Linked DNA regions of Homo sapiens. The protein of the gene in region 2 purifies or fractionates together with the protein of the main gene of each other region. This does not show direct contact. Each region holds a gene or a part of one and is shown on either strand. Other genes may lie near its edges.

Evidence for each region.
Region 1: the proteins of SCN4A (region 2) and TPST2 purify together in Homo sapiens (affinity purification with mass spectrometry; one large-scale study listed by BioGRID and IntAct). This does not show direct contact.
Region 3: the proteins of SCN4A (region 2) and SOAT1 purify together in Homo sapiens (affinity purification with mass spectrometry; one large-scale study listed by BioGRID and IntAct). This does not show direct contact.
Region 4: the proteins of SCN4A (region 2) and FAM162A purify together in Homo sapiens (affinity purification with mass spectrometry; one large-scale study listed by BioGRID and IntAct). This does not show direct contact.
Region 5: the proteins of SCN4A (region 2) and PARP16 purify together in Homo sapiens (affinity purification with mass spectrometry; one large-scale study listed by BioGRID and IntAct). This does not show direct contact.
Region 6: the proteins of SCN4A (region 2) and TSPAN15 purify together in Homo sapiens (affinity purification with mass spectrometry; one large-scale study listed by BioGRID and IntAct). This does not show direct contact.
Region 7: the proteins of SCN4A (region 2) and PIGU purify together in Homo sapiens (affinity purification with mass spectrometry; one large-scale study listed by BioGRID and IntAct). This does not show direct contact.

Annotation. Positions count from the first base shown.
Region 1 is NC_000022.11:26,583,633-26,587,132, forward strand, and holds part of TPST2 (protein-tyrosine sulfotransferase 2), read right to left. Parts: intron 1-3,500. UniProt on the Homo sapiens protein: Catalyzes the O-sulfation of tyrosine residues within acidic motifs of polypeptides, using 3'-phosphoadenylyl sulfate (PAPS) as cosubstrate.
Region 2 is NC_000017.11:63,955,919-63,959,418, forward strand, and holds part of SCN4A (sodium channel protein type 4 subunit alpha), read right to left. Parts: coding exon 3,347-3,500; intron 1,601-3,346; coding exon 1,244-1,600; intron 1-1,243. UniProt on the Homo sapiens protein: Pore-forming subunit of Nav1.4, a voltage-gated sodium (Nav) channel that directly mediates the depolarizing phase of action potentials in excitable membranes.
Region 3 is NC_000001.11:179,296,797-179,300,296, reverse strand, and holds part of SOAT1 (sterol O-acyltransferase 1), read right to left. Parts: intron 1-3,500.
Region 4 is NC_000003.12:122,404,682-122,408,181, reverse strand, and holds part of FAM162A (protein FAM162A), read right to left. Parts: intron 902-3,500; coding exon 793-901; intron 1-792. UniProt on the Homo sapiens protein: Proposed to be involved in regulation of apoptosis; the exact mechanism may differ between cell types/tissues.
Region 5 is NC_000015.10:65,262,884-65,266,383, forward strand, and holds part of PARP16 (protein mono-ADP-ribosyltransferase PARP16), read right to left. Parts: intron 438-3,500; coding exon 266-437; intron 1-265. UniProt on the Homo sapiens protein: Intracellular mono-ADP-ribosyltransferase that plays a role in different processes, such as protein translation and unfolded protein response (UPR), through the mono-ADP-ribosylation of proteins involved in those processes.
Region 6 is NC_000010.11:69,496,465-69,499,964, reverse strand, and holds part of TSPAN15 (tetraspanin-15), read right to left. Parts: intron 1,757-3,500; coding exon of another isoform or gene 1,686-1,756; coding exon 1,569-1,685; intron 1-1,568. UniProt on the Homo sapiens protein: Part of TspanC8 subgroup, composed of 6 members that interact with the transmembrane metalloprotease ADAM10.
Region 7 is NC_000020.11:34,670,593-34,674,092, reverse strand, and holds part of PIGU (GPI-anchor transamidase component PIGU), read left to right. Parts: intron 1-3,500. UniProt on the Homo sapiens protein: Component of the glycosylphosphatidylinositol-anchor (GPI-anchor) transamidase (GPI-T) complex that catalyzes the formation of the linkage between a proprotein and a GPI-anchor and participates in GPI anchored protein biosynthesis.

The DNA.
Region 1 (3,500 bases), on a different chromosome or scaffold from region 2:
AGTTCGAGACCAGCCTGGCCAATATGGTGAAACCCTGTCTCTACTAAAAATACAAAAATTAGCTGGGCGTGGTGGCATGCGACTGTAATCCCAGCTACTTGGGAGGCTGAGGCAGAAGAATAGCTTGAACCCAGGAGACGGAGGTTGCAAGGAACCAAGATCATGCCATTGCACTCCAGCCTGGGCGACAAGAGCGAGACTTCGTCTCAAAAAAAAAAAATTGTTTTTAAAGCAATGGAACTGCTTATTCAGGTGGCACGAGGCAGGCCTAAGGCATCCTCAGATCCCCTGAAAAGCCGCACTTACGTGACAATGGGGAGTAGGGGGAACCACAGTGACTGGGAGAGTCCAGGCCACCTAAGGGGCAGCTTCAGGCCACTCCAGTTTGGCCTAAGCTCCTGGGTTTCCAAGAGAAATGAGAAATCAGAATTTTTCTCTAGAAATGTTTGAATGTTGACTCAATTTTAAAAACACACACGTAGCATGGGAGCTCAACAAAAAACATGCAGCAGGGTGAACTCACCCATTTAACATGTACGGAAACTGGGGCTCAGAGAGGGGAAGCTCCTTGCCCAATGTCACACAGCAATTTGGAGGAAGAGTTGGGACTTGGCTGCTTCCAAGCTCTGCTGTGCATGAGAGTGTGGGAGTGGGAGGAACAGAGCGAGTAGGGAGGAGTGGGTGGGAATCTGGACTTTACAGGCCAAGAGCCCTGCATGTTCTGATCATCAGGGAAGGAGTGTGGACAGAGGGATGGAGAGCGGATCAATATTTATTCAGAATAGTTATAACAACACCTGATGTTTTCTGTGTGTTTTCTATGTGCTAGGCCTTAAGATGGGATATCAAGGAGGAGTAAGAATGAGAATTCAGAGTGTAGAGTCTGGGCTGGGTGTGGTGGCTCACGCCTGTAACCCCAGCACTTGAGAGGCCAAGGTGGGATGATCGCTTGAGCCCAGAAGTTCAAGGTTATAGTGAGCTATGATTGTGCCACAGCACTCCAGCCTAGGCAACAGAGCAAGACCCTGTCTCAAAACAAACAAACAAAAAAACCCAAAACAAAAAAAAAAGAAAGATTCTGGATCCAAATCCTATGTCTCCCACTTCCTAGCTGGGTGACCTTGTGCAAATTACTTCACCTCTCTGAGCCTCAGCCTGTTCACATCATATGGCTGTTGGGGGAATTAAATGAGTTAAACCACATACAGTGCCTAGAACAGTGTCTGGCACCCAGTAAGCCCTGTTGATATTGGCTGTATTTATAATTGTTGCCTTTTGACAGACGGAGGAACTAAGGTTCACAAACGAACATGTTCAAAATTCCAAAGAGCCTGTTTAACCCCAGGGCCTCAGCTTTTGCCTGGTACCAAGATAAGTGCTTTACCACCATTCCCTTCCATCCAGCACCCCTGGAAGATAGGTCCTACTTATACCTGCATTCAACAGATGAGAAAACCAAAGCATAGAGAAACAGCCAACAGCCCCAGAAAGATGTGGAGCACCTGGATTCTAATACAGGCCAGTGCCCCCTAGCTCCCTATCACACTGCCTGCTTTCTGGGCTGCCTGCCTGCTTTCTGGCTGCAGAAGCCCCAGTCAAAAGTCTTACTGATACAAAGTCACTCGGCAGACGGGCTGGCTGCCCGCCATCTGAGCACATAGGATAAGAAGTTTCTCCCTGGGCCATCAGCCCCAGACGTTCCCTAGGGCCTGTGGGCACTGCCTCTGAGGTCCTTCCCTGCAATTTCTGGGGGCTGGCCAAGATCTCAAGCAGCTCTGAATGAATCATTCCCACAAATCCTCCTCTGGCTGCAGTAAAGGGTGGGGGAGACCTGAGAAGTGACGGGAGGGGACAGTCATCCCAGATCTCTGGAGGGGCCCCAGACCGGGTACATGCAGGTCCTCAGAGGGCACGGGGACTTGCAAGCAATCGGAATAGGCAGCAAGTCGGGGAGCAGGAGCTGCTGCTACCCAGAGAAGCTTCCCTGGTGCCACGTGGGGCATCAAAGCCACACAAGCCACATGCATTTTTCCAAGAAAGTACATTCTGGTCACCAACCCCAGGCTGTGAAGCTACATCTGATCTGCCACTCTTACTACAAATACACCCACAAAGTCACATCAATAATACATTTCAGGCCAGGCGTGGTGGCTCACACCTGTAATCCTAGCACTTTGAGAGGCCGAGGCGGGCGGATCACAAGGTCAGGAGATCGAGACCATCCTGGCTAACACGGGGAAACCCTGTCTCCACTAAAAATACAAAAAAATTAGTCAGGCATATGCCTGTAGTTCCAGCTACTCGGGAGGCTGAGGCAGGAGAATGGCGTGAACCCGGGAGGTAGAGCTTGGAGTGAGCCGAGATCACGCCACTGCACTCCAGCCTGGACAACACAGCGAAACTCCGTCTCAAAAATAATAATAATAATAATCATAATAATACATTTCAACAGCCTAACCGATCCCAAGGCACCACCACATCTTAGTTCTGAATGGTCTATGCCCATTCCTCAGTAGGGTACACTGACACCCAGAGAGCGGCAGTTCCTTGCCTAGGGAGCCTTCCCACCCCGTCTCCATGTCCCTAGGCTGCTTTCTTTCTTTCTTTTTTTAATATTTAATTGATTTTTATGTACTGACCTAATACCCTACAATCTCGCCCTGTTGCCCAGGCTGGAGTGCAGTGGTGCAATCTCAGCTCTCTGCAACCTCTACTCAAGCGATCCTTCCACCTCAGCCTCCCGGCTATCTGGGAATACAGGCGCGCACCACCACGCCTGGCTAATTTTTGTATTTTTTGTAGAGATGGAGTTTCACTATGTTATTCAGGCTGGTCTCAAACTCCTAGGTTCAACCAATCCATCCACCTCAGCCTCCAAAAGTGCTGGGATTACAAGCATGAGCCATGCACCCGGCCTAGGCTGCTTTCTTAATGCACAGGAACTCAGGATTTTAAAAGGACAAGGAAAGGCAAGTATGCAAAAAAGAATAAAGTCACGAGGTGCCAGATACAGCGGCTGGGAGGCGTGGTCTTAACACCATTCCCAAACAGCAGCTGCCCAGATGAACCAAGTTGTCAGGAAACTGGAACACGCAGATAAGTGCTGGTCTAAGTTCCTGAACCAGCAGAGTACAGGTTCAAGCTGGGGTGAACTACCTACCTTCTCAAGGAACTCTTCCTCTGTGAAAACGCTGGGTTCTGACCTGAGTTCTTCCGGTGCAGCCTCTTGCTGAAGCAAAGAGTGTGAAGGAAGAAACACAGGGTCCTAGGGGTGGGGAAGGTGCTGAGAGGAGGGGGAAGATGTCTGTGTGTGCAGAATGTTCACAGATGAAGCGTCTGTAACTCAGGACTGCTCATCTCAGGCCTGGGGGGTGGCCCCTCTTGAAATAAGCAGCAACTCACATAGGACACTCCGGTGGCCACCCAGAGAAGTCACCTTCAGAGTAGCGTGGGGGGTTCCAGATAGGGTGTGGGCAGGACCAGACTTAATTTTGGGGTCA
Region 2 (3,500 bases):
TGGGGAACATGGGGACAGGCGTCTTCCCAGTCCCTGTTGCCCAGGGCAGCACCAGCCACTGCAGGGGGCAGCTGGGCACAGCACTGCAGGGCTCTGGCAGGAGTGACCTCCACTGCCACCCCAAGAAGGGGAGAAGTCAGGGTCACCTCCAGAGGCCCTAGCCGCAGAAATGCTGGCCAGCTGGACCATGGCCCTATACCCTGGCTCTCACCTCCTGGCCCCTTCCTCTGCACCAGCCCCTCATGCCAAGCCCTGAACCACAGTAAGCGGCAGAAGAGATGCAGTTTATGCCATCTCTGCATTTTCCCAATATCTGCACCTGTTTCTTTTTTGTTTTCTAGAGATGGGGTCTTGCTCTGCCCCCCCATGCTGGAGTGCAGTGGCAGGATCACAGCTCACTACAGCTTTGAAGTCCACGGCTCAAACCATCTTCCTGCCTCAGCCTCCCAAATAGCTGGGTTTGGTGTGTGCCACCATGCCTAGCTAATTTTTTTCATTTTTCCATTTTTTGTAGAGATAAGAGTGTCTTGCTATGTTGCCCAGGCTGGTCTTGAACTCCTGGCCTTGGCCTCCTAAAGTGCTGGGACTATGGGCATGAGCCACCACATCCAGCCTGATTCTCTTTTTCGGCGCCTGGACCATAGGCCCTGGAGCAGAGGAGGTCAAGAGGGTGGGAGAAGGCCAGGAGGCCCAGGTTCCCCCACAAAACTGTGCCTTTGTACACACTATGGCATCATCTTTGCAGTGACCTCATGAACTCCCTGTTGTTTTTCTTCTATGTGAGGGTTAGAGAACCCAGCTTGACTAGAGAGCAGCAGTTAGCTCAAGGTCACACAGATGATGGCAAAGGAGCTGGGACTGGAATGTGGGTCTGTCTGACTCATTATCATGTTGCTTTACTCAAAACACTAGGTTCCAACAGCGCTACTCATAGCATGGTCCCAGAACCACCATCAGCATCCACTGATCAGCATCACCTCGGAGCTTGTCAGAAATGCAGGTCCCCAGGCCTAGGCCCAGAGCTGCTGAATCAGACACTCTGGGGGTGGGGCCGGGGATCTATGTTTTAAGTAACTCCTAAGTGATTCTTACACAGGTTAAAATTTGAGAACTACGGGGTTAAACCACATAAAATTGCCATTTTGGAGAGGATGTGTTGGGGAGATAGAAAACAGTCAAATATCAGGTACATCTTGTACGCTTCCCGGGTGAGGGCAGGGGCCACCCAGCCAGCCTCACTCACCACAAGATTGCCGATGACCATGACCATGAGGAAGACGGTGAGGCACATGGCTTGGCCGGCCACCTCCATGCAGTCCCACATGGTCTCGATCCACTCCCCGCACAGGATGCGGAAGACGATGAGGAAGGAGTGGAAGAAATCATGCATGTGCCAGCGCGGCAGGTTGCAGTCCAAGGCAATCTTGCACACGCACTCCTTGTAGCTCTTGCCAAACAGCTGCATGCCCACCACGGCGAAGATGAACACGATGATAGCCAGCACCAGCGTCAGGTTACCCAGCGCCCCCACTGAATTGCCAATGATCTTGATGAGCATGTTCAGCGTTGGCCACGACTTGGCCAGCTTGAAGACCCGCAGCTGCCAAGCAGGGAGGGCAAGGGTGAATGAGGCCCAGGGACCACCACCCAAGGCAGCCCCAGCCTTAGGAGAAAGAACAGTGTCGAGTAGCTTGAATCTCCAGCCCCCCACACCATCTGAGTCCTCAGTGTGCCCTTCTGCTAAATGGGAACACTCATTCTACCACCTCAGGCCCTTCATGTGTTAAAAAGAAAACAAGTCCAGGCCAGGCGCGGTGGCTCACGCCTGTAATCCCAGCACTTTGGGAAGCCGAGGCGGGTGGATCACTTAAGCTCAGGAGCTGGAAACCAGCTTGGCTGACATGGTAAAATCCTGTCTCTACTAAAAATACAAAAAATTAGTCGGGCATGGTGGCGAGTGCCTGTAATCTCAGTTACTCAGGAGGCTTAGGAAGGAGAATCGCTTCAACCAGGGAGGTGGAGCTTGTAGTGAGCAGAGATTGCACCACTGCACTCCAGCCTGGGCTACAGAACAAAACTCCACTAAAAAAAAAAAAAAAAAGAAAAAGAAAAAGAAAAGAAAAGAGAAAAAATGTCATTCGTCATTATCTGTTAAAGATACAGACTATGGCTGGGAGCAGTTGGCTCACACCTGTAATCCCAGCACTTTGGGAGGCCGAAGAAGGTGCATCACTTGAGCCTAGGAGTTGGAGACCAGCCTGGGCAACATGGCGAAACCCTGACCTACAAAAATTACAAAAATTAGCTAGGCATGGTGGTCCCACCTATGCAGGAGGCTGAGGTGGGAGAATCACCTGAGTCTGGGGAGGTCAAGGCTGCAGTGAGCAGTGATCGTACCACTGCACTCCAGCCTGGGTGACAGAGAAACCCTGTCTAAAAAAAAAAATACAGACTAAAGTATTTACAAGTGAAATTATATGTTGGGATTTGCTTTCACAATAAAAATTGGGGGACAGATGCAACAGGAATTGTAGAATGTTGATAGTTGTTGAAGCTGGGTGATAGGTACGTGGAGGTTCATTATACTTTCTCTATACTTTTGTGCATGCATGAAAAGATCCCTTGATAAAGTTTGTTGTTGTTGTTTTTTTTGAGACAGAGTCTCAATCTGTTACCCAGGCTGGAGTGCAGTGGTGCGATCTCGGCTCACTGCAACCTCAGCCTTCCGGGTTCAAGTGATTCTCCTGCCTCAGCCTCCCAAGTAGCTGGGATTACAGGCGTGCGCCACCAAGCCCAGCTAATTTTTGTGTTTTTCGTAGAGACGGAGTTTCACCATGTTGGCCAGGCTGGTCTTGAACTCCTGACCTCAGGTGATCCACGCGCCTTGGCCTCCCAAAGTGTTGGGATTACAGGCGTGAGCCACCGCGTCCAGCTGATAAAGTTTTAAAAAGAATAATAGTGCTCCTTATGGGGTGGTGAAAAGACAGAAATTCAGAGGTCCCAATCCTACTCCTAATGAACTTCCAGAGCCCCGGCTTTCAGGTCTGCAGTATGGGGCTGGAGTTCCTGCTCCACTGCTGCTCAAGGTCATTAAGGAATCAAACCCAGTGTTGGCCTCTGTCACTTGGGTCCCCCCAGCAGCCCTATGAAAGAAGACAGGGCTCTCCTTTTCTCTGTTTTACAGGTAAGAAAGGTTCTGAGAGGTAACAGGTGTGCACAAGGCAGAGGAGGCCTCGTTTTCAGCCCTCTAGCTTCCTGGGGTTTCTCCTCCCATCCCTGTGCCCACCCTCCTTAGTCTCCTCACCCCACCCCCATCCCAGCCCCTGGCCCTGGGGCTTTTGTGTACCAGACGGAAGGAGCGTAGCACAGACAGTCCCTGTACGTTGGCCAGGCCTAGCTCTACCAGGCTGAGGGTGACGATGATGCTGTCGAAGATATTCCAACCCTGCTGGAAATACTCGTAGGGGTCCATGGCAATCAGCTTCAGAACCATCTCTGCT
Region 3 (3,500 bases), on a different chromosome or scaffold from region 2:
TAAACTTTGAGGGACAGCCTCAAAGTAGAGGAAATCAGGGAAGAAAAAGAAAGACACAAAAGGAACCAAGATGTTTCAGTAAGAGAGGAATTTTACAAGGAATAATGGGAATTTTTTTTTTTCTGGCCAGATGAACAGAGACTTTTTTTTTCTGGCCAGATGATGGGGAATTTAAAGTAGATACTCTTTTAAAGAGCATATAGCAAAAGTTTAAAGCATAAAAGACAGCAAAATGAAGCCGGGTGCGGTGGCTCATGCCTGTAATCCCAGCACTTTGGGAGGCTGAGGTGGGCAGATCATGAAGTCAGGAGATCAAGACCATCCTGGCTAATACAGTGAAACCCCATCTCTACGAAAAATACAAAAAAAAAAAAAATTAGCTGGGCATGGGGGCAGGCGCCTGTAGTCCCAGCTACTCGGGAGGCTGAGGCAGGAGAATGGCATGAACCCAGGAGGCGGAGCTTGCAGTGAGCTGAGATCACACCACTGTACTCCAGCCTGGGCAACAGAGCAAGACTCCGTCTCAAAAAAAAAAAAAAAAAAAAAAAAAAGATAGCAAAATGATTAAAAAATAAATGCCAGATTAAAGTTTATTACCCAAGCCATATGAAACAGTATAGCACAATGCAATATTTCTCAAAGTAGAATAATAACAGCTGATTTTTTTTAGTGCTTATGTGTTTTACATGTATTATTTTCATCTCAACAGAATCAAGACAGATACTATTGTTATTTTCCAAATATTCTTTGGCCACCATAGTGTCCCATATACTCTTCCCTGTCTATAGAAAGCTATTTCTCCTCTGCCCTTTTTTTATGTAGCTAACTCCTACTCAAGCCTTCAAAGAATCACAGCTACAGCAGTAATAGAATTAATACCAACAGTTCTGATTTAATGAGCACCTATTATGTACCTCTAGGCACTGTGCTGCTAAACTTTTTACATTACATTTAATCTTTACAACCTTAGATAAGTATTATCCTCATTTTACAGATGAGTTTAGGGAAGTGATTTAACTTGTCCCAAATCAAATAATTCTCCAACAGCAGAACTAGAATTCAAAACAAAGACTATCAGATTCTACAACCTGCCCTCTAATCGCTAAACCGCCTCCAACTCACCCTCTGAAGTTTCCTTTACCACCACCTCTCATCTCATCCTCTCTGCGGTCCCACTACACTGAGCATCCTGTCACATGTTACATTGTCCTATAATCAGAGAGCAATACTCTCTGTCTCTTACATTAGGCTTAAGTTCTCAAAGATAGGGATTACATAGTATTTTCTGTAAGACTCCCCCAAATCTAGTGTGGAGTACCTGGAGTACAACAGGCAGGCATTAAGAAAGAAAGCAAATGTATCAGTTAATATGTAACCAATTATTCTAAGCACAAGACAGTCCCCAACTTATGATGGTTCAATTTAAAATTTTTCAACTTTATGATGGTGCAAAAGCAACATGCATTCTGTGGAAATCATATTTTGAGTACTCATACAACTATTCTGTTTTTCACTTTCAGTATAGTATTCAATAAATTACATGAGATAATGAACACTTTATTGTAAAATAGTCTGTGTTCAATAATTTTGCCCAACTGTAGGCTAATATTAAGTGTTTGGAGCATATTTAAGGTACACTAGGCTAAAACTACCCAAAAAACATTTAGCCCGGCGTGGTGGCAAGCACCTGTAATCCCATCTACTCAGGAGGCTGAGGCAGGAAAATCACTTGAACCCAGGAGGCGAAGGTTGCAGTGAGCACAGGTCGCACCTCTGCACTCCAGCCCAGACAACAGAGTGAAACCCTGTCTCCAAAAGAAGAAATATAAAAAGGGAGTCCTTGGTAATAAGATGGTTCCTCAACCATCAAGCTACTCTAGAGGAAACCTTACATCAAAAGCTAAAACAGGGCCGGGCATGGTGGAATACATCTGTAATCCCAGCACTTTGGGAGGCCGAGGTGGGCAGATCACCAGGTCAGGAGATCGAGACCATCCTGGCTAGCCTAGCACGGTGAAACCTCGTCTCTACTAAAAATACAAAAAATTAGCCAGGTGTGGTGGCAGGCACCTGTAGTCCCAGCTACTCAGGAGGCTGAGGCAGAAGAATCGCTTGAACCCGGAGGTGGAGGTTGCAGTGAACCTCAATCACACCATTGCACTCAAGTTAGATCAAGTCACTTCACAACTTAAACCCCTTCAAACATCCTAAGTCCTTACCATGATCTAGTAACTTCTGCATTGCCTGCCACTCACCACCACCCCCTTAAACACCATCAATCTTTTTTTTTTTTTGAGACAGAGTTTCACTCTTGTTGGTCAGACTGGAGTGCAATGGCACGATCTCAGCTCACCGCAACCTCCGCCTCCTGGATTCAAGCGATTCTCCTGCCTCAGCCTCTGGAGCAGCTGGGGTTACAGGCCACCACACCCAGCTAATTTTGTATTTTTAGTAGAGATGGGGTGTCGAACTCCCAACCTCAGGTGATCCGCCTGCCTCGGCCTCCCAAAGTGCTGGGATTACAGGTGTGAGCCACCGCGCCCGGCATTTTTTTTTTTTTTTTGAGACGGAGTCATGCCATGTCGCCCAGGTTGAAGTGCAGTGGCATGATCTTGGCTGTCTCATTTTCTCTACTCATTACTTTGGCCTTCCACTGTTTCTTAAACAAGCGCACCGGCTCACGCCTGTAATCCCAGCACTTTGGGAGGCTGAGGCGGGTGGATCACAAGGTCAGGAATTCTAGACTGGCCTGGCCAAGATGATGAAACCCCGTCTCTACTAAAAATACAAAAAATTAGCCAGGGGTGATGGCAGGTGCCTGTAATCCCAGCTACTCGGGAGGCCGAAGCAGAGAATTGCTTGAACCCAGGAGGCGGAGGTTGCAGTGAGCCGAGATCGCGCCACTGCACTCCAGCCTGGGTGACAGAGCTGGACTCCGTCTCAAAAAAGAAAAGAAAAGGACAGGACATGGGATATTTCACAATTGGGGGACATTAATAGCTATGATTTGATTACATGCACAGTTTTAGGAGGAAGGACAAATAAATATATTGGAGTACACCGCCAGTAAGTTGAGGAAGTGAAAACAGTGATCATAAGACTAGTCTCTCAAGAGGTCTAGCAGTGAAGGAATCTCTAGCGTTTAGGAAGCAGGTAACAAAGTGCTGAGTGCAGTAGGTGTAGCACATATCTCATTTAACATGTCCATTTTTAAAGATGCAGGAGATTCAGAAATGCTAACAAACTTGTTCAAAGTCACAGGTAACATAAAGCTATTCCCCCCCAGGTAACAAAGCTAAGTAGACAGCTATTTATACAACACACTGATTGAAAAAGAATTTCTTAAGAATCTAATCTGTGCACGCAATTACATAATGTTCAGTGTGATAAGCATCTAACTTATCTTAAGAAAGCAAAACAAAAAGAAATGATTTGAGAAACAAATGAACTTGGAAAGACATGTCAACTTTAGCCTGCCTCCGTGTTCCCATTAATACAGC
Region 4 (3,500 bases), on a different chromosome or scaffold from region 2:
GTGATTAAGTGAGCTTAACAGTGCCTGTTACATAATAAGCACTCAATAAATGGGAGGAATTTTCCTATTACCTGAATTGGGTCTAGGTTCACACTGTGGCTCGTCATTAAGGAGATATGTGGCCTTGGGCAAGTTACTAAAGCTTTCTAAGCTATAGTTTTCCTCATCTATAAATCAGGTCCTAATAATACTTATCTTACAGTGTTTTTGTGAGGTTCAGATGAGATACCAGCTAGAAAAGTACCTGGAATGCAGTGAGTGTTCAATTAGTGATAGCTATTAATTATAATCTGTGCTAAAGATTTCTGGACTTGTATTCCTATGTACTGCTTAGGAGCTGTGGTCCTTAGACACATGGCCCTGTCTGGCTGAGCTTCAAATAAAGAACCCCGCTAAGAAAGCTCACCATGCTGAAGGCAGTTATGGTGAGGGTAAATACACTTGGGTACCAAGAGCACTCTGGAAATATGCAGTGGGTGATTAAATATGCCAGTGTCCTATTTCTTAATTTACATTATGACACCTGTCATCAGAAACACTTTTTAAATTTACATTACACAAAATGAATCTAGTCCTTCTTCACCACGCCAAAGTTAGGATTTGCTATCTATCCCCAAGGATGATATTCCAGGCTTGTTCCCAATATGTCTTATTTTTTTGCTTATCTTTTCTCATGTAATGTAGAAAGTAGCCTCCTCTTCTCAGAGGGTAAATACAAGGGTCAATCCCTGATTTACTCTAGGTTCTTGGTGGAGAACATACATACTGGATAGAGAAGAAACCCCTTCTCACCTTCTTGCCCTCAATAACCATGAAGATGCATCCTACCACCGTCAGGGCAATCATTAGATAGCTGATCTTCACTCGCATCTTGTTCTTTGCAGCATCAAGCATCTCCAACCTAGTAATACAATGAGATCATGAGAGAAAGTTATTAACTTTTCCCTTTCTGAAGTTGCTCAGGATAAAAGGCTGTGTATAAATTCAAAATGTAGTAGTGTCTATAAATATAAATAGGGAGACCTAGAGATCTCTTTAAAAAGGGCCTAGAGATCTCATAGGACTTTGGGGAGGATGAGGCATTTTTCGTAACTCATTTATGTATAAAATACAGGATAGCACACAATTAAGTACAAAAGAAGAAAACAAAAAGAGAAGTCAAGAACAAAGCCAAAAAAAAAAAATGGGCAAGGCATATTAATCTACACTTGCTATGGTGGACCCCAATTTTGGCTCTCAGGTTTCCAAGCAGCCTATAAATGCTAGAAGTGAAACAGTCATTTCTCCCTGAGGTTCTTAAGAAGACATTATGTGATGTAGTCATCGTCTGAAAACATCTCGACAACAGATACTACAATAAGCTTCATATGTTTCAACACAAAGCACAATTCAGAATGATCAAACATTGGAGAAAGTTAACCAATGTGCTCCATATACCCAGCTTTTTGCTCTCTGTCTTGAACCCAGAATAGATTTGAGAATATCTAAAATAGTAGGAAGATCCTTTAAGCAATGCTCCTCAATATTTATCTTTTTAAACAAATGTTTTGCTAAAATTGAGTGACAGTGAACTTGATATTGTGGTCTTTGGCAAGTGCCAAAGTGCAGCTCTTCTAACCTATCTACTGAATACAGACCCATGTGCCTTAAAAAAAAGTTGATGGTTGGTTCATCATTCTTGTGTGAAACCTAAGAGGCTTAATATAGAAGAGTCTAAAGGCCAATCTACCTTGGTGATTTTGCAAGTAGGCAGTGAGTCATGGTTCTATTTTTAATTTACTTTATTTAAAGAGATGGGGTCTCACCATGTTGCTGACTCAAAATCTTAGACTGAAGCGATCCTCCTGCCTCAGCCTCCTGAGCAGCCGGGGCTATAGGCATGCATTGCCACACCTGGTGGTCACGATTCTGTTACCTCGGTGTCTGGCAGAACCTCAAGGCAGGGGATGTGGAGCCCTTATGGGGCCCAGGATTAACTTATGGCCTTCTCAGTAGATGTGTAAATAGGAAGTGATTATCTCTAGATGATGGGATTGAAGTGCTTTCTTTCCCCTGAGATATTTAACATATATTACTTTTAAAATTGGGGAGGGGAGTACTTTAAAAATGCTTGGAAGGAGGCAAAGAGTCTGGGATGTTGCAGGTGGAAGGAGGAAGATGATGAAGCCATGTACAATGTGATGTAGGAGCTGGGACCTGTGAGGCAGCATGTGGACGGGGTTCTCCAGGCACTTAAGCTGGGCCTGCAGGCTGGCAGGAACCCAAGACAACTGCTAAGGACTGTCAAATTGGTCAGTTAGGAGCACCTGAGATTCCACTAACCACAAACTGACTTCCCATGTTGACGGTATTTTATGGGATTTGAAGTGCCATGATCCTCATGAAAAGTAATCCATTCCATAGGGAGTAATAGGAATGGGCAAGTTAAGCAGTGCCTGTTCAGAACTACCAGCACAAGGACAAATGGCTGCCCAGGCCCAGAAAAGACCCTTCCAGAGTGATTCGTGAGGTAGTATTTTGGGCCTGAGGGGATCTTGGAACCAACTATTAGGCAGACTGAGGAAGGTGTTCTATAGCAAAGCCTATACAGCATCTGTTAAGGCCATGGGTGTCTACCAGCTTATTTTCTGCTGGTATAGGAAGAATTAGGGCATAGGCAAGAACCTGATGTCACTGTTATTTCCAGTATTCTCTTATTTCCCAGAAGAATACATGACTTGAGCTAAGAAAAACCAGGGCTTTCCTGCTGAAATAATTCTAGTTAAAGTAATGTGCTATCAATTTGACTGGCAGAAGCAGAAAAGCTCTATTAAAGCTGTTGTAAACAGAAAGTAAATACTACATATTTCCCTGGGAAAGAAATCCTGAATGAGCTCAGATCTTTTTCAATCATGACTTGAAACCAGAGACCAGAAGATCCAGGAATAGTTTCTTGCTGACAGGGAACTTCCACGAGCTTTGTCTGAAGTCCCTGTCCCTGAATAGGATGATGCCTCACAGAGGAGATGACATCTATTTCTCAGAATCTCTTTTTAGCCAAGATGCCAGCCAGTCAGGGTCTTTAACATGAGGCTAGGGCACTGGTTCTCAACCAGGGGAGATTCCCACCCCGCTCGTGCCCCTTGGACATTTGGCAGTGTCTGGAGACATTTCTGGTTGTCAGCACTGCCGCAATGCTACGGGCATGTAGGGGGCAGAAGCCGGGGATGCTGCCAAACATCTTCCAACAAATAGGACACCCCCCTGCCACAAAGCATTATCAAGCCCCAAATATCAATAGTACTGAGTTGAGAAACTGGGTTGGAGGAACCTGCACTCATCATCTACAAACTCTGAAAAAGTTCCATGATCCCAGCCAAGATCCCTTCCCTTAGGTTTAAGGAAGTTGGTGACAGGAAGCACTCTTTCCTGAATTCCAGAATATTGCAATTAAATACTTTTACACCTAAGGTTGAGTACTTAAGTGGATTTGGGGGAATACAGTCATTGTCAATGGTACT
Region 5 (3,500 bases), on a different chromosome or scaffold from region 2:
TACTTCCTCTGAGCTGCCTCTGTGGGCCTCGTCAGCCTCCTTACCTGGCACCCCCTACCTACCCCCTTGTAGTGAATGGTCTCCATTGAGTGTTCAATCTCTAAGAAGACTGCTCGCTCCTTGGGCAGGACCCTGTCCGGCACTGCCCTGGATCCAGCCCAACCCTTGGGCATGCAATGGGTGCTCTACCCAACAGCTGGGCCAGCAAGAGCCTGTACACCCAACAGAGGCCTGTAGCCCAGGTCTGGACCAAGTGCTCACTCACCCTTCTTCTTGGTTTGGCACTTGACGTCCGGATGGTCAATGACCTCACACACGGCCACACAGCTAAGGATGGGGCCGAGGAGGCTGTGCTGCCACCCATGGCCATGGGGGCTGTATATGAGGGCCAGGCTCAAGTCACTGGTGAGGTAGGTCCCCTCTCCGAACAAGGATGTCTGCAACAGCAAGGCCAATGGAAAAGAAACACAGATGGTTGAATGTACAGTTGGCACGGCAAGACGACACAGGTCTCTCTTCAAGAGTTGTAAACACAAAATGTACAACCCCCGCTTTTTGCCCCAGCAAGACACAGGATCAAATAATCCTGTGATATCATCACAGGGTTATTACTAAACACATTCCTGCCTGACAACAGTTTAACTGATTGTGGATTTGGCCATCTGGCCTGGCAAACTAGCAGTTCCTTGTGGTCAAGGTTGAGTGAGAAAAACATAGGTATAAGCATCCAAACCAACCTCGGTTTGAATCCTCCAGCAAGTGGCAAGTTATATAAACTCTCTGTGTCTCAGTTTCTAGATCTACAAAATAATGTTACTAGTAGCTCCTTTACAAGGTTGCCAGTGAGGATTAAATGAGGCAATATACATACATAAAAGAGTGGGACATCTGGCACATCTAAATAAATGAGGGGCCAGTACTCCATTGCAGGCCTTTATGTTCTAGTATATAAAGTAATTCCTGTTACATGAATGCAGTAGGCATGGTTACTCTGATGGGCTTCAAATGCAAAGTCACACCCTTAGGTACAGGGAAGGGGTCCCACCTGAGAAGGGAGGTAATCTGAGTCATTACTTGGAAAAGAAATGAGTCTCTCACAAATAAATAAAAACATAAAAATTAAAAATAATAAATAAATTAGAAATTAGTCTCTTAGACCAGAAACTATAACAAAATGAGGGAGGCCGACATGCGGGGCAAGGTACGTTTTACTCTTTGTATTGGGGTTGACCAAGAAAACATCTAAAAATCTAGGCAGCATCTCCCTGGTGGTGCCCTCCATAAGGAAGCATGCCAGGTGAAGGACCTGTAAGTTGAGGCTACAGCAGGCATAGTGAACACATCTTTGCCCATGGTAGATGACCAATAACAAACCACAATTGCCAGCACAGTAATATCAAGCATGGCACTTATTCCTAATGATCCAGAATCCTCAACTTAACATTCCAGGTAGCTGCGACCAATGGATGGACATTGACGCTCAGGTTGAAATTCAACTGCTATCCCTGAGCCACACTATCAGTATCTCAAGATAAGTGGACTTGAATAGCTCACTGAAGAATATCTTATGCTCTGGAATTGAGAAATGTCCTTTTCAGTAGCACCAGGCTTCCAAAATCCTAAATCTGTTAAGTGAAGCTTAGGGGAAATGAAACAGACCTTTGCTTGGCCTTTGGGAAGCTCTTTGCCAAGTTAGGCAGGGTCTCCATCTCTCAAAAGCTGACACAGACCTTCTCCAATGACACTGGATGCCCTCTGATCTGACCCCACATCCATTCTCTGCTTATGCCATCATGTGTTCACCCTTCCTTAGACTTGAGAACCCCATGCAAGGCTGCCATGAGCAGTGGTGTACAAGAGTGGGAAGCTCAGTGTATCTCTGCCATGAAAACAGTATCAGTATCAACTGGCAGATGGACTCCCTCAAGCAAGCCCTTCACTGAAAACCCAGGCAGAGGGGCCATAGGAGGATTGATGTGCTTTACCAAAGGATTTTTGTAAGATGCCTCTAAGCAGCAAACTCCCTGGGGCACTAAAATGAAGGTTTAGTGTACAAGAGTATAATCTGCAGGCAACTTCTCCAGGCCAGCACCAGTGTAAAGGGGAAGCCCCCTGAATTCCAGTAGCCTGGACATAATGGTAAGCTGAGAGCCAGTGGTGGACTGAGAGCCAGTGTAAACAAGCCCGTCATCCTTAGCAAAACCCAACGACATTAACCAGATACACCAGGGAAATATCTCCAGTCTCAGGGCTGCAGCAGCCACAACTGAGCCCATGGCTCATGGAGCCAGCTCCTCACAGACAAGGCAGATACTGCCATGACTGGGGGAAAGGCCTGCAGCTCCTCCAACTACCCTAGATGCCCCTCCATCAGCATATAAAAGCAGCTACCTCTTCCTTGGTACTTAGTACACAAAGAGCCCTTTGCATACATGAACTGTTTTAATTCTCTGACATATAAGAAGGAGGGTAATGGTGTCCTTTTTTACAGATGAAGAACCTGAGGCTCAGAGAGTTTAATTTACTCAGGGCCATAGAGCTGCTAAGTAAGTCTCTGTAGCTCCAGGGTCTGTCTGTAATGCTCCTCCTATACCTGAGGGGTAAAATAAATGCCTGCAGAGAAGTGGATAGATGACTGTTTTGACTCATAAAAATGGGACAAAAGCAGCTCAAGAGGGGAGGGAAAGGACCTCTCCTCGGTGCATCTTGGCATATCCCTCAGTTTCTCCAAGGGCTGATTTCCTGGAGTGTGGTCCCCAAGGAAAGTGCTTCTCAAACTTCAATATGCATACAGATCACCTGGGGACCTTGTTAAAGTGTGGATTCCGATCAGGTGGTCTGCGCCTGAGATTCGCATTTCCAGCGAGCTACCAGGTGATGCAGACGCTGCTGGTCCAGGGAACGCACAGTGGAGCTAGGGTTGGCTACATAGTGGGATCACCTGGAGAGCTTTTAAAGCAACTGATGCCTGTGCTCCACTCGGAGATTCTCATTTAATTGGTCTGGGATGCAGCCAGGCATCTGGGATTTTTTATTATTTATTTATTTTATTTTTTAATTTTTGAGATGGAGTCTCACTCTGTCACCTAGGCTGGAGTGCAATGGCACGATCTCAGCTCACTGCCACCTCTGCCTCCCAGGTTCAAGCAATTCTCCTGCCTCAGCCTCCCGAGTAGCTGGGATTACAGGCACCCACCACCATGCCCGGCTAATTTTTGTATTTTTAGTATGGATGGGGTTTCACCACGTTGGCCAGGCTGGTCTGGAACTCCCTCAGCCTCCCAAAGTCCTGGGATTACAGGCGTGAGCCACTGCGCCAGGCCTGGCATCTGGGATTTTTAAAAGCTCCCCGAGTGATTCTAAATATGCAGCCAAGGTCGGGAACTATCTTTAAATCGACGCTTTTCAAACTATAACCAGTGCAGGAATCACCTAGAGATCTTGTTAAAATGCAGGTTCTGATTCAGAAGGTCTAGAGTGTGCCCAAGATTTTGCATTTT
Region 6 (3,500 bases), on a different chromosome or scaffold from region 2:
TGGCCTTCGGGGTACCCATGACCTCCCTGACTCCACCTCCTACCATCCTCCGCTGTGCTCCCTCTGCTCCAGCCACTCTGTGCATTTCTCAAACGCCCTGGGGTGATTCCCACCTGGGGCCTTTGCACAGCTGTTCTTGCTGCCAGGAATGCCCCTCCCCCAGACACCTTCCTCACTTTCTTCAGAGCTTCACCCAGATCCCGCCTTTCTCAGTATCCCAAACTGCAATCCTCCATGCCCTACTTTCTTTTTCTACTCAGCATTTATGATCCTCTATCTTTTACTTATTTTGTTTGTCAGTTTTCTCCACTAGGATGTCACCTCCTTGCGGGCAGAGACTTTGTTTGCTACACCCCCAGAACCTGGAAATGTGTCTGGCATAGAGTAGGTTCTCAGCCAATATTTGTTGAATGAATGAATGAATGAATGAATACAAGTTTGGCTTCCACATCTCAGCTTAGGTATTCAGATGCTGCTGCCCTGGGTGATGAGGTTCAGGATCACCCCACGCAGGCCTCTCTGGAAACTCTGCTACTCCTCAGCACCCCACTTCCCAGAGAACTACCCTAAAATGGCAGCTAACACTTCCAAACAAAGCTTCCCTCCTGGCCCGGCCTTTTTTAGAGCTAGTGCACTTGGCACTGGCTCTCTGACTCATGGGCGAGGCCCCCACCCGCAGCTGCTCAGTTTACAGAATCCAGCAGTGGGCACAGAATGGTGGCAATGTCAGGAGAAAAACTTTCCATGACTATCTGGGCCATGAGTAATTGCAAAGCTCTCCACCTCGTTCCAATCCTGAAACAGTTTCTGGACACATTTGTCAAACACAAGGACTGATGAAGCCTTTCACTTAAGCGCTGACAACACAAGACATCATCCCAAATGACCAAGGTGACAGACCCGAGAGGATCGTGCTGGGGAGAGGAAGAGGATGGCATTTACGTCACCAGACCCCCTTCCAAGCACTCTGCTGCTGATGATCACCAGGACCTCAAGGCCAAAGACCAATGGAGATGCCCAAGGTGCAGGTCCTGCCTGCCTCCACTAATGCTGCAGAGCCAGCTACCCCCGCTAAGCTCCCCTGGCCTGGGCACCTCTCCCTCCTGCCCTCACCTGGCCTGCACAGTTCTCCAGAGTGTAGCTCAGGCAACAGCTGCCTGCACTTCATCCCAGCCCTGCCAACCTTGGGCAAGACACCCAGCCTTTGAGTGCCTCAATTTCCTCATCTGTAAAGTGGGTAAAATAACAGTACATACCTCACAGGGTTGTCGTGAATACTAAATGAGTAAATACCACCAAAGTGCCCAGAGCAGGCCTGCACAAGGTAGGTGCTCAATAGATTTTAACCAACACCACTAAGAAAGACATGGTCTCCCTACCCCCGACCCCCAGAAGCTCCACTTTCAGGAGCCCTTGAGAATCAGGAAAGCCTCCGCTCTGCCACCAACTCCTACTTCCCTGCCATCCACCCACACCACCCATCTTCAAGTTGGGAAGAGAGAAAAGAGAACATTTATACCACCTGGGGTCCCCGACAGCCCCCCAGTCCCCACAGGAGCAGTGTCTACCGTGTTCCTGATGCAGCAGGTGTAGGGCACCCCACAGGCCAGGGGTCCAGGGGCACTGCAGTCGTGGTACTGATTCTTGCTCCAATCTCGGTAGTCCTCCCCGCCACAGCACTTGAACTGAGGGAAGCAAGCAGGAAAGAGGAGCTGCCGTCATCGCCCAGGCCCTGCTCAGACGACAGGAAGGGGCCCTGTCAGGAGACGGAGGCAGTTTATTATGTGGGTCACCCTGGGGCAGGGAGAGGCTGTACACTTTCAAGTCAGAGCTGTCAAAGTGTGGCATGGCTGCCTAGAGGGTAGTGAACCCCCTGTCACTAGAGAGGTATGGAAGCCAAGGCTGGGCTGCCTCTTGGTGGGATATCAGGGTAGTGACTAGGCACTGGGAGGAAAGGTCCTTCCTTGACAACTGGCCTCCACTTTCTTCATCTTCGTGTCCCCAAATGCAGGTGCTAGGCTGGAAAAGATGGCCCTTAAAGTCCCAGAGACCAAGCATGATTCTGTGAAAGTCCCTGCACCTCAACCAACCTTCGCACCCACCCTAGGAGCCACCCCGTCCAGCTCAGCTGGCCCTGCCCTTAGCAAGGAGAGCACCCACACCTCACAACCTGCCTGGAGCTCTCCCCTTAGCCGAGCCCCTCCCTGCCTCCCCTCCCTGCTCCTGTAGGAAGTAGTTGGTAACCCTCCTGATGGCTGGTATGTGCCTGGCATTGTCCTGGGCACTGGAGAGACAGGGTGAGCAAAAGCAAGGCAGCCCTTGCTCAGGTGGAACACATTCCAGTGGAGAGACAGAGAGTGAGCACTGGATGGAAAGGTGCTGTGCAACCTGGAAATGGAGAAATAGGGGGAAAGTGGGGAGGGGCAGCTCTAGGTTGGCAGGTCATGAAAGGGCTCTTTGTAGAGAGGATATTTCATCTGAAACATGGAAACAGAAAGAAGCCAGACGACCCATGCAAAGGCCCCACGCAGAAACAAGCTTGTATTTCAGCAGCAGGTGCGGAGGCCAACAAGCCTGGAACAGAGAGAGTGCAGAGCATGAGGATGAAAGGGCGGCACAGGCTGGACCATGCAAAGCTTTGCCAGCCAGCTGAAGCAGGGAGCTGGGACTGGAGGGCTCAACCAGGGCTGCAGTACACGTCCTGGTAGCCAGACACCTTTCAGAGTCCCCACAGTGCCCCTTAAGCCACCAGGTTTTGGGACCTAGAACTGTCTTTCTGCAATGTAGTTCAAAGGGCATTTGTCTTGCAATGGAACAGACCCAAGGTCAAATCCTCAGACCACCACTCCCTGCTGTGCAACCTCAGGCAAGTTGGTCAGCCTCTCTGAGCCTCAGATGGTTGTCTGTAAAGCAAGAATAAGGATGGCAGCTCTGCACAGCTGAGCTGTGATTACATAGAGTGCCATGCATGAAGCACTCAGCACTGGACCTGGCACCAAGCAAGTGCCCATTCAGCATTAATCACCTCCTACCTCTATGCCAGGAGAAATGAAATCCCCAAGCCAGCTAAAGGCTGGTTCCAATAAAAACATCTCACTCCACCCGGAGCAGAAGTCAGCTCTCCCAGCCCAAGCTGGCAGGCACATCCCTGGCAGAAAAAGACCTTCCAGAGGCTGCACCTGTTGTGACTGAAGAGAAAGTCTGGGCCAAGGGAGCGGCCACAGCAAGTGGCCCTGCATGTGGGGAGAGGCTAGTCCCCACTGAGAGCTGGCACAAGGATCCAGGCCAGCTGAGGCCCCCAAGATTATGTCCCAGGAAGTGCTGTCCCGGCTGAGTGGGCCTGCAGCCCTCACTCTACTTGTCCTCACCCAGGAGAACATACCAATGATCCCCACAGCTGGCACTGTGGTCTCACCCTGTGCTTGGCACTGTTCTAAGCACGTCTCCTGAATTAAGTCAAGGTAATCCTCATGACGACGCCCCAAGAGCTCCTGTCATTA
Region 7 (3,500 bases), on a different chromosome or scaffold from region 2:
TGAGCCACTGCGCCAAGCTTTTTTTGTTGTTGTTGTTTTTGAGATGGAGTCTCAGTCTGTTGCCCAGGCTGGAGTGTAGTGGCATGATCTTGGCTCACTGCAACCTCTGCCTCCCAGGTTCAAGCGATTCTTCTGCCTCAGCCTCCCAAGTAGCTGGGACTACAGGCACATGCCACCATGCCTGGCTAATTTTTGTATTTTTAGTAGACACGAGGTTTCACCATATTAGCCAGGCTGGTCTTGATCTCCTGACCTCGTGATCCGCCCGCCTTGGCCTCCCAAAGTGCTGGGATTACAGGCGTGAGCCACCACGCCCGGCCAAGCTGTATGAATTCTAACGTCAGTGTTTCCATCTGTAAAATAGGAAATTATGTATCCTGTTCAACGAGATAATCCATGTTGAAGCTCAACACAATAATGAAAGCCAAAAAGGTGAATTCTAAGGTTTTGAGTTGAGATATTAGGAAAAATAGTGCTGACATGGGCTGAAATAGATGAATCAGAAAGGACATAGTAGTGTTTCATGTGTGTATAATGTGATAGTACAATACTGACAGGTTTAGGTCTGGAGCTTGAGGCCAGTGTCAGGACTAGAAAGAGAGAGAGATTTGTTAACCACCCATCATCTGGATCTGACTAAATCAGCATGATTATTTGTATCATTTGGGAGGGAAGGTACAACATCTGTAAGCATTACTTTTCTTCAAAGGGTACCTTAAATGGGATATTTTTTAAAGCAGCTGATTATATAAACCCTAAAAGGCAGGAATTTAAAAATAGTAAAGTAGGACTCCTTCTGGTTTCACATGACATTTTACATTTTTTTTTTTTTTTTTTTTGAGACGGAGTCTCACTCTGTCACCCAGGCTGGAGTGCAGTGGTGCAATCTCAGCTCACTGCAAGCTCCGCCTCCCGGGTTTACGCCATTCTCCTGCCTCAGCCTCCCGAGTAGCTGGGACTACAGGCACCCGCCACCACACCCGGTTAATTTTTTGTATTTTTAGTAGAGACGGGGTTTCACCATGTTAGCCAGGATGGTCTCGATCTCCTGACCTCGTGATCCACCCGCCTCGGCCTTCCAAAGTGCTGGGATGACAGGCGTGAGCCACCACGCCGGGCTGACATTTTAAATTTTTGAATGATCAGTTCTTTGGGTAAAGGGGCCCTGGATCCAAATCCAAATAGATTTTGATTGGCTATAGTATGGACTGATTTTTTTTTTTTTTTTTTTTTTTTGAGAGACAGGGTCCCACTCTGTCTCCCAGGCTGGAGTGCAGCGGCATGATCATAATTCTCTGCAGCCTCATCCTTCTGGGCTCAAGAGATCCTCTTGACTCAGCCTCCCAAACAGCTGGGATTGGTGCATGCTCCCACACTTTGCTAATTGTTTTTTATTGTTTTTTGTAGAGATGGGGTCTCAATATATTGCCTAGGCTGGTCTTAAGCTCCTGGCCTCAAGCGATCCTTCTGCCTTGGCCTCCCAAAGTGCTGGGATTATAGGCATGAGCCACCATGCCTGACCTCTTTTTTTTTGAATAAGTGCAACGAAAGCTCTGGAATTAAGTCACATTGAACTGATTTGGGTCATATACCAATTCTTCGGTCAATTACTGTAGTCTGCCTGGGTCATGTATCTACCTCTTTGGAAAGGAGGCAGTCTCACCCAAAATGTACACAAGGGGGGTATCCCATAGGAAAAATTAGGGTGCTGTTACCAAAAGAAGGGAAGATTGATGTTGGGCAGGCACAAATAACATATCCATTTCAACAGGAAAAATATCTTTTCTGTTACCTATTTCTACAAATCCATCGGTTTATTTGATAGTGTAACTAAAATACATATAAATTTCCAGGCCGGGTTTTGTGGCTCATGCCTGTAATCCCAGCACTTTGGGAGGCCGAGGCGGGAGGATCACTTGAGCCCAGGAGTTTGAGACCAGCCTGGGCAACATGGCAAAACTCTGTCTCTACAAAAAAATACAAAAATTAGCTGGACATGTTTGGCCCATACCTGTAGTCTCAGCTACTCGGGACGCTAAGGCAGGAGGATTGCATGGGCCCGGGAGGCAGAGGTGGAGGGTGCAGTGAGCCGAGATCGTGCCACTGCATTCCATCCTAGGTGACAGAGTGAGACTCTGCCTTATAAAAAAAGAAAATTTTTTTTTTTTTGAGAAGGAGTTTCACTCTTGTTGCCCTGGCTGGAGTGCAATGGCACAATCTCAGCTCACTGAAACCTCTGCCTCTCAGGTTCAAACGATTCATTCTCCTGTCTTAGCCTCCTGAGTAGCTGAGATTACAGGCATGAGCCACCACACCTGGCTAATTTTGTGTTTTTAGTAGAGATGGGGTTTCACCATGTTAGTCAGTCTGGTCTCAAACTCCTGATCTCAGGTGATCCACCTGCCTTGGCCTCCCAAAGTGGTGGATTACAGGTGTGAGCCACTGCGCCCGGCCAAGAAATAAATTTTTAAGGAATGAATTTCCTGTTTGACAAAAGCAGGAGCTTCTAAAAAATTAATAAGAAATTAACAGGCTGGGCACGGTGGCTAACGCCTGTAATCCCAGCACTTGGGAGGCCGAGGTGGGTGGATCACCTGAGGTCAGGAGTTCGGGACTAGCCTGACCGACATGGAGAAACCCTGTCTCTACTAAAAAAATACAAAATTAGCCGGACGTGGTGGTGCATGACTGTAATCCCAGCTACTTGGGAGGTTGAGGCAGGAGAATCACTTGAACCCGGGGGGCAGAGGTTGCGGTGAGCCGAGATCGCGCCATTGCACTCCAGCCTGGGCAACGAGCAAAACTCCGTCTCAAAAAAAAAGGAAGAAGAAAAGAAAGAAATTAACAATGATATGATGCTTTTTACATGCCTGGTATTGTTCTAAGCACTTTAGGTGTGTTAATGCACTAATTTGATCTCTAAAATGGCAAACTGTTATCAACCCCATTTTATAAATGAGAAAATTGAGGCATGGAGAGATTAAGTCATTTGCCCAAGGTGACCTCGCTAATAATATTTTGTATGAAGAGCTAGCAATCTTTAGGTATGGCTGTTCCACCAGTATCATCTTGTTTAGATATCTGTCAGGAATAATGTTAGAAACTTTCTGCCATGTTTTAGTCTTTCCTGAGGCTTTCACCCAAAGATTGACAGTTCGTATAGGCTTAGCTTTTTGAGTTCAGGGTAGAGCCCAAGCTATTAGTACTTATCTAGAAACCCACCCCTACTACAGCTATGAGAATCAGGGTTGCTGGGCATGGTGGCTCAAGCCTGTAATCCCAGCACTTTGGCAGGCTGAGGTGGGCAGATCACTTGAGCTTAGGAGTTTGAGACCAGCCTGGATAACATGGTGAAACCCCACCTCTACAAAAAAGAAATACAAAAATTAGGTGGGTATGGTGGCGTGTGCCTGTAGTCCCAGCTACCTGGGAGACTGAGGTGGGAGGGTGGCTTGAGCCCAGGAGGTGGAGGCTGCAGTGAGCCAAGATTGCACCACTGC